Homo sapiens: one gene and its partner. The protein of the gene in region 1 purifies or fractionates together with the protein of each later gene. This does not show direct contact. Each region holds a gene or a part of one and is shown on either strand. Other genes may lie near its edges.

What was found. Proteins that work in one complex are often made in the same cells at the same time.
Region 2: the proteins of CC2D1A (region 1) and ASNS purify together in Homo sapiens (affinity purification with mass spectrometry, with the first as the bait; one large-scale study listed by BioGRID). This does not show direct contact.

Annotation. Positions count from the first base shown.
Region 1 is NC_000019.10:13,912,700-13,916,352, forward strand, and holds part of CC2D1A (coiled-coil and C2 domain-containing protein 1A), read left to right. Parts: intron 1-468; coding exon 469-603; intron 604-704; coding exon 705-939; intron 940-3,653. UniProt on the Homo sapiens protein: Transcription factor that binds specifically to the DRE (dual repressor element) and represses HTR1A gene transcription in neuronal cells. The combination of calcium and ATP specifically inactivates the binding with FRE.
Region 2 is NC_000007.14:97,865,873-97,869,525, forward strand, and holds part of ASNS (asparagine synthetase [glutamine-hydrolyzing]), read right to left. Parts: intron 3,308-3,653; 5' UTR 3,285-3,307; coding exon 3,036-3,284; intron 1-3,035.

The DNA of each region.
Region 1 (3,653 bases):
TGGAGTGCAGTGGTGCCATCTCAGCTCACTACAACCTCTGCCTCCCAGGTTCAAGGGATCCTCCCACCTCAGCCTCCCCAGTAGCTGGGATTACAGGTGTGTGCCACCACGCCTGGCTAATTTTTGTATTTTTTGGTAGAGATGGTGTTTCTCTGTGTTGGCCAGGCTGGTCCTGACCTCAAGTGATCCACCTGCCTTGGCCTCCCAAAGTGTTGGGATTACAGGCGTGAGCCACCGCGCCTGGCCCACCCTTATCCTTCACAGCCATGTGACCCATATCAGGTGGGTGACATGATGCTTCTGAAACCCCATTCCCTCCACTGGGAAATGGGGACCATGATTTCTGCCTCACTGGGGCAGGGGAGGCTGGTCCAGGGATGACATGGGGCCGACTGTTACTGCAGAAGGGGCTAACAGGGGCATCCCAAGTGGGGTCACCACCCACACTGTGCCCCTGCCCTCCCACAGCCGAAGCCTGAGGCCCCTCATCCGGGGCTGGAGACCACCTTGCAGGAGAGGCTGGCGCTCTATCAGACAGCAATTGAAAGCGCCAGACAAGCTGGAGACAGCGCCAAGATGCGGCGCTACGATCGGGGGCTTAAAGTAAGTGGGCAGAGGGCAGGGTACAGGGACCCCCCGCCAACCCCGATGCCCTGCACCAAGCTCTTGGCTTCTCCCAAACCAATACTCACGCCTTATCTTAGACACTGGAAAACCTGCTCGCCTCCATCCGTAAGGGCAATGCCATTGACGAAGCGGACATCCCGCCGCCAGTGGCCATAGGAAAAGGCCCGGCGTCCACGCCTACCTACAGCCCTGCACCCACCCAGCCGGCCCCTAGAATCGCGTCAGCCCCAGAGCCCAGGGTCACCCTGGAGGGACCTTCTGCCACCGCCCCAGCCTCATCTCCAGGCTTGGCTAAGCCCCAGATGCCCCCAGGTAGGTGATGGGCAGGGCCGGGCTGATATGGGATCCGAGTGGGCCATCTGGCAGGATGCTGCTCTAGGGGGGTGCCGGCTGTGCACTGATTGTGAGATATTTTCAACACCCTGAGTCCTGGGGTCTTCAAGCCCCTGGAGTTCATGAATACCTCCCAAGCAGGACATGGATACCCAGAGAGTTTTTTTTGTTGTTATTATGATATTATGATAAAATATAGATCACATTTGCCATTAAAAATTATTTTAGTTCTTTTTTTTGAGATGGAGTTTCGTTCTTGTTGCCCAGGCTGGAGCGCAGTGGCACGATCTCAGCTCATTACAACCTCCACCTCCCAAGTTCAAGCGATTCTCCTGCCTCAGCCTCCCAAGTAGCTGGGATTACAGGCATATGCCACACTTGGCTAATTTTGTATTTTGAGTAGAGATGGGGTTTCACCTTGTTGGCCAGGCTGGTCTTGAATTCCTGACCTCAGGTGATCCACCCACTTCGGCCTCCCAATTTGCTGGGATTACAGGCATGAGCCACTGTGCCCGGCTTTTTTTAATTCTTTGAGACAGGGTCTTACTCCATCACCCAGGCTGGAGTGCAGTGATGTGATCATAGCTCAGTGTAGCCTCAACCTCCTGGGCTCAAGGGATCTTCCCTCACCTTCACCAGTAGCTGGGACTACAGGCATGCACCACACACTTGGCTAATTTTTTTTTTTTTTTTGAGTCGGAGTCTCGCTCTGTCACCCAGGCTGGAGTGCAGTGGTGCGATCTCGGCTCACTGCAACCTTTGCCTCCTGGGTTCAAGCAATTCTCCTGCCTCAGCCTCCTGAGTAGCTGGCATTACAGGTGCATGCCACCACACCTGGCTAATTTTTTGTATTTTTAGTAGAGACGGGGTTTCACTGTGTTAGCCAGGATGGTCTCGATCTCCTGACCTTGTGATCTGCCTGCCTCGGCCTCCCAAAGTGTTAGGATTACAAGCATGAGCCACCACGCCAGGCCTCATCGCCTTTTTTTTTTTTTTGAAACAGAGTCTCACTCTATTGCCCAGGCTGGAGTGCAGTAGCATGATCCTAGTTCACTGCAACCTGCCTCCCAGGCTCAAGCAATCCTCCCGCCTCAGCCTCCTGAGTAGCTGGGATTACAGGCATATGCCACCGTGCCCCATGCCCAGCTAATTTTTGTACTTTTTGTAGAGGTGCCATGTTGCCCAAGCTAGAACATATCTTCTAAGAGGTTTTTCTTCCTAACCTCCCCCTAGGAAAGGAAGGCCTCCCTCCCTCTCTTTGTGATATGAACACGGGGCTTTGCCCCAGGTCCAAACACTTCCCTGGCAGGAAGCAAAGAGACAACTCAAAATACTGGCATGGGTTTGAGAAAGCAAACACTGGGTCACTAAATCCTTCTGCAACCAAGCTAGTTTCCAAGCCATTGTTTTTGACAAAGTTCAAGGATTACTGGAATTGTCACCTGAAATTGTCAACTGAAACGACCAAAAATTTTTCACAATGGAAGTTTGGCATAAAACTTGTCAGGAGTTCAAAGAATACAAAGACATCACAGTAACAAAATTCTGTGTCTTCCAATCTATTTGTTAATGTGAAGTAGGTTTCTCAATACTTTAATTTTTTTGAGACGGAGTCTCGCTCTTGTTTCCAGGCTGGAGTGCGATGGCGTGATCTCGGCTCACTGCAACCTCCGCCTCCCAGGTTCAAGTGATTCACCTGCCTCAGCTTCTCGAGTAGCTGGGATTACAAGCGCCCACCACCAAGCCCGGCTAATTTTTGTATTTTTAGTAGAGACGGGGTTTCACCATGTTGCTGCCCAGGCTGGTCTCGAACTCCTGACCTCAGGTGATCCGCCTGCTCCGCCTCCCAAAGTGCGGGGATTACAGGCGTGAGCCACCACCCCTGGCCTCAACACTTTAAAAAAGAAAAAAAGTGCAGATGTAGTGGCTCATGCCTGTAATCCCAGCACTCTGGGAGGCCAGGAGTTCAAGAGCAGTCTAGGCAACATAGCAAGAACCCATCTCTACATAAAAATTAAGAAATTAGCCGGGTGTGGTAGTGCATGCCTTTAGTCCCAGCTCCTCGAGAAGCTGAGGTGGGAGGTTCGCTTGAGTCCAGGAGTTCAAGGCTGCAGTGAGCCGTGATCGTGCCACTCCAAGTCTGGGCAACAGAGCAAGATCTTATCTCTAAAAAAAGAAAAAACAGAAGAGGATTGAATGGGAGAAACGAGTTGATTGTTAGGGATTGGACCCAGCTCCAATTATGTCAGCAAGAGGTACATTTCTGGTAGAATTTTGCTCTTGGTGTACCAAAACTATCAAATAGCTCAGCAGGGGCTGGGCGTGGTGGTTCACACCTGTAATCCCAGCACTTTGGGACACCAAAGCGGGCGGATCACTTGAGGCCAGGAGTTCAAGACCAGCCCTGGCCAACATGGTGAGACCTCATCTCTACTAAAAATACAAAAATTAGCTGGGCGTGGTGGTGCATGCTGGTAGTCCCAGCCACTCGGGTGGATGAGGCAAGAGAATCACTTGAACCCAGAAGGCAGGGGTTGCAGTGAGCCACGATCACACCACTGCACTCCAGTCTGGGCGACAGAGCAAGACTCTGTCTCAACAAACAAACCAACCCAAAAAGCTCAGCTGGGTGTGGTGGCTCACACCTATAATTCCAGCACTCTGGGAGGCCAAGGTGGGAGGATCGCTTGAAC
Region 2 (3,653 bases), on another chromosome or scaffold:
GTAGAAAAGTTATACTGCAGCTGAAGCGGGCTGAGAGGGTCTTTTTTCCCTAGGGAACGCCAAATAAACTGCGTGTTTTACACCTGCATTTTGACTGTGACATCAAAATGCACATGTAATGTCATGTCAGTGCTCAAAAAGTTTCAGATTTTGGAGCATTTCAAATTTCAGATTTTCAGATTAGGGATGCTCAACCTCTAAATTTAAGTTAAGATAATAGGTTGCCTGGTTGCCATGACACTAAAAAACGTGTCTTTTGCAACTATAAACTTTTGATTTGAGAAGATAGTATTGGCTAAGAAGTTCCTCCAGTTCAGCTTCAAAGTCCTAGCTATAAAAATGTAAAGCAAAGGGACAAACATCATTTGGCATCATTCCCTGAAAAATAAATGGCTCCATCACAATAACAGATACATGATCCAAAACAAAGCTGCTGGTCCCCAGGGGTGGATGACAATGCCCAGTGCTTCCACCACTGCAGCAGCATTAAAGCTACTCCTTACTGATAGATAAAATGACGGTGGCGCTTTATTAGTCTGCATTCCCCAAAAGAACAGCAAAGGGACTGTCTGCCACTGCATGCAGAGTAAGAAGGTTTGATTAGGCTACTCCCCAATTCTGACACTCTCCACCATCAACGGCAAACTATGAGCCATTAATGGCAAACTATGAGGATGAAAAGTCCTTGATGTATTCCTCTTTCTTCTTTGTACTCGGGTTTTTGGCTGACATTAGAGAAAGAAGAGGTTTAAATCAGGTGGAAATCCTAGATAAGCTTAAAACATGCTTTCAAATTTCAAAAAGTAAACCTATTATGTATGTGCATGACCCATAAATATGCTTCACACTCCATCCAACTCACTCCATAATTTGTGAATCTTTTGTCTATAAGTCCTCACTGAACTGTCCAAAAATGGGCTTTGCCTCCAGTGACTACAAAGTCACTACCTGGTCACCCCTCTCTGCTCTATCAGGGATGATCTGTAACTAGCAGGTGGGGGCCTGTAAACAGTCTTCTGCTGACTCTTCTGGGCTGAACTGCCTGAAGGGTTAGTGACCATAAAGCATTCGGTGATATTAGTAAGCAACAGCTTCCCAAATCTACCTTACCCACCTCTTTGGCCTAAACTTTGCAGGTAACTTATTTAAAAAGGAGAAGGGTCCTTTGGGTAACGGATGTATTACTTCCTACTCTCCTAAAACCAAACTCCAATGCTGCACCTTAAATAAAAGCCCTCAAATCTTGCCTCCTGACGTCATGCTGTCATTTGACTTGGCTGCAGGCCCTGATACTCCCCTGCAGGGAGAGGGCCTGCTCTTTGCCCCAGCCTTTACCCCATTCCTCCTTTCTTTCATTCAGTCTCCTTCTACTCCCAGTACACCTCTGGCTGTATTTTATTGTAGTGGTAAACTTTATTTTTACCAAAAAGGAGGTGTGGGGGGGATTTCTGAATACTTTATATAAGCCTAAAGTATACATTCTGCTCATTAGACAGACTGCTAGCTGCCCCAACTACATAAACTTAGATGCTTGGTAGAAGCAATGGAACAAACTTCTCTACTTTTACAAATATAACATTTGGCTAATTTAGAATAGAAATTAATTATTTTCAAAATATTTAACTTCTTGTAACTTTTTAATAAAAGAAATAACACTGTTCAAGTGAAACAGGGCACTTCCTATTTCATTTAAGGGGAAAGCCAAGCTGATAATGCCATAATACCACCTAGCGTTCTCATGTATATGACATTATTTGACTTAGAAAAAATTTTTAATACTCTCTTCTTCTACCTCCCACTAGCAGGAAATTCCATTCTTGCCTTTCCTTTTCACCATTTCATCTCCAATCACCTAGAAAAATGATGTCTGGTGCATAGTAGACCCTTAATAAAGGAATAAAGAAATGTGTAAAAGGAATTTCCTGAATAACTATTTTAAAACTTTTTAAATGAGAAGACTATTATTAAGAGTCTTCCTATGAGCAGGCAACAAACAATGACAAAAGCTATTGTTCACAGATAAAAATGTCCAAAATGTGATTAGGATGTAAATCTCTATCAATGCCTGACAGGTATCTATCAAGAAGTCTCAAAAAATACCAAGAAACATACCAACCAAATGCATGAACCTTGAATGAAATCTGGCTCAAAACAAACAAGAACCAGCTATAAAGATATTCTTGGTAGCACTTTGAGAGGTCAAGGTGGGCAGATTACCTGAGCTCAGGAGTTCCAGACCACCCTGGGCAACATGGTGAAACCCTGTCTTTACTAAAATACAAAAAATTAGCTGGGCATGGTGGCAGGTGCCTGTAGTCCCAGCTACTTGGGAGGCTGAGGCAGGAGAATTGCTTGAACCTGGGAGGCAGAGGTTGCAGTAAGCCGAGATCGCACCACTGCACTCCAGCCTGGGTGACAGAATGAGACTCTGTCTCAAAATAAATAAATAAATAAAAATATTCTTGGGACACTTAGGGAAATTTCATTTAAGTATTAACTGGATATTAGGTGGTATTATGGACTCTTAGGTTTAATAATGGCATTGATGTTATGTAGAAGAATGTCCTTATTCTTAGGAGATAAATGCTTATATATTTAGGAGTGTCATAATATCTGCACTGTACTCTCAAATGATTCAGCAAAAACATGTGTGTGTGTGTGTGTGTGTGTGTAGAAAGAAAAATCAAGCAACTATGGCAAAACATTAATGACTATTTAATCTAGGTGCTTGTTGTTCTGTTCTTTACTGTATGTTAGGAATTTTTTCAAAATGAAAAGCTGGGGAGAAGGAGAAAAAATTCTAAGAGTCAATGAAACTGAACTGTAATCCCCATTTTTATCACTTTTTTTGTGACCAAGTCATTTCACTCACCTTTTTATTCATCAGTTCCCTATTTACATACTTAGAGCAAATGAGATAACGAACATAGAGTGCTTTGCAAAGGAAAAAGCATGATACAGAATATGTAACATCATCGTAACCAACAAACTCTGAAGTTTAATCGCATCCAGACATCTGGTTTCTTTCTCCTCACCTTCTTATGGTTGTAGATTTCACCATTGTAACAGAGCCACAAATACGGATATTTCTTCACTCGAATTGGCTGCATTCCAAACAGCGGGTCAACTACCGCCAACCGGTGAAATCCAAAGCAGCAGTTGGTGTATCCATTGACATTCTCAAAACGGAATGCATCTGGACCTCTGTGTGCAATCTTCATAGCACTCAGACACTGAACAGAAAGGCAATCATCACTGCCAAACAGCGCCCAAATGCCACACATGGTGCAATGAAGCTATAAGCTTTCTATGGAGAGAAAAGCAGACAAATCAAAAATATTCAATATCCAATCCAACTCTGCATTAAATCTTGATTCCGGAAACGTGCATAAACCACTTCAAAGACTAAAATTTAAACCATCTTTTCTATAGCGATTTCCCATTAGGTTGGCAGGCACATGGGAGTAGAGAATGATTTAATTTACTTACAGGTATTCGGAAAAGATAGTGACCTCTACATTCAACCGGCTACAGCAGCTTAGCACCTAGCCAAAGCCTGCATCTCTCCCACCTTAGGATTTAGTGGTTGGCTAGAGCTGACAGCGTCCATGCCACATCTGTCTCTGCATTCTAAGTTTGCTTCCAAGATACAG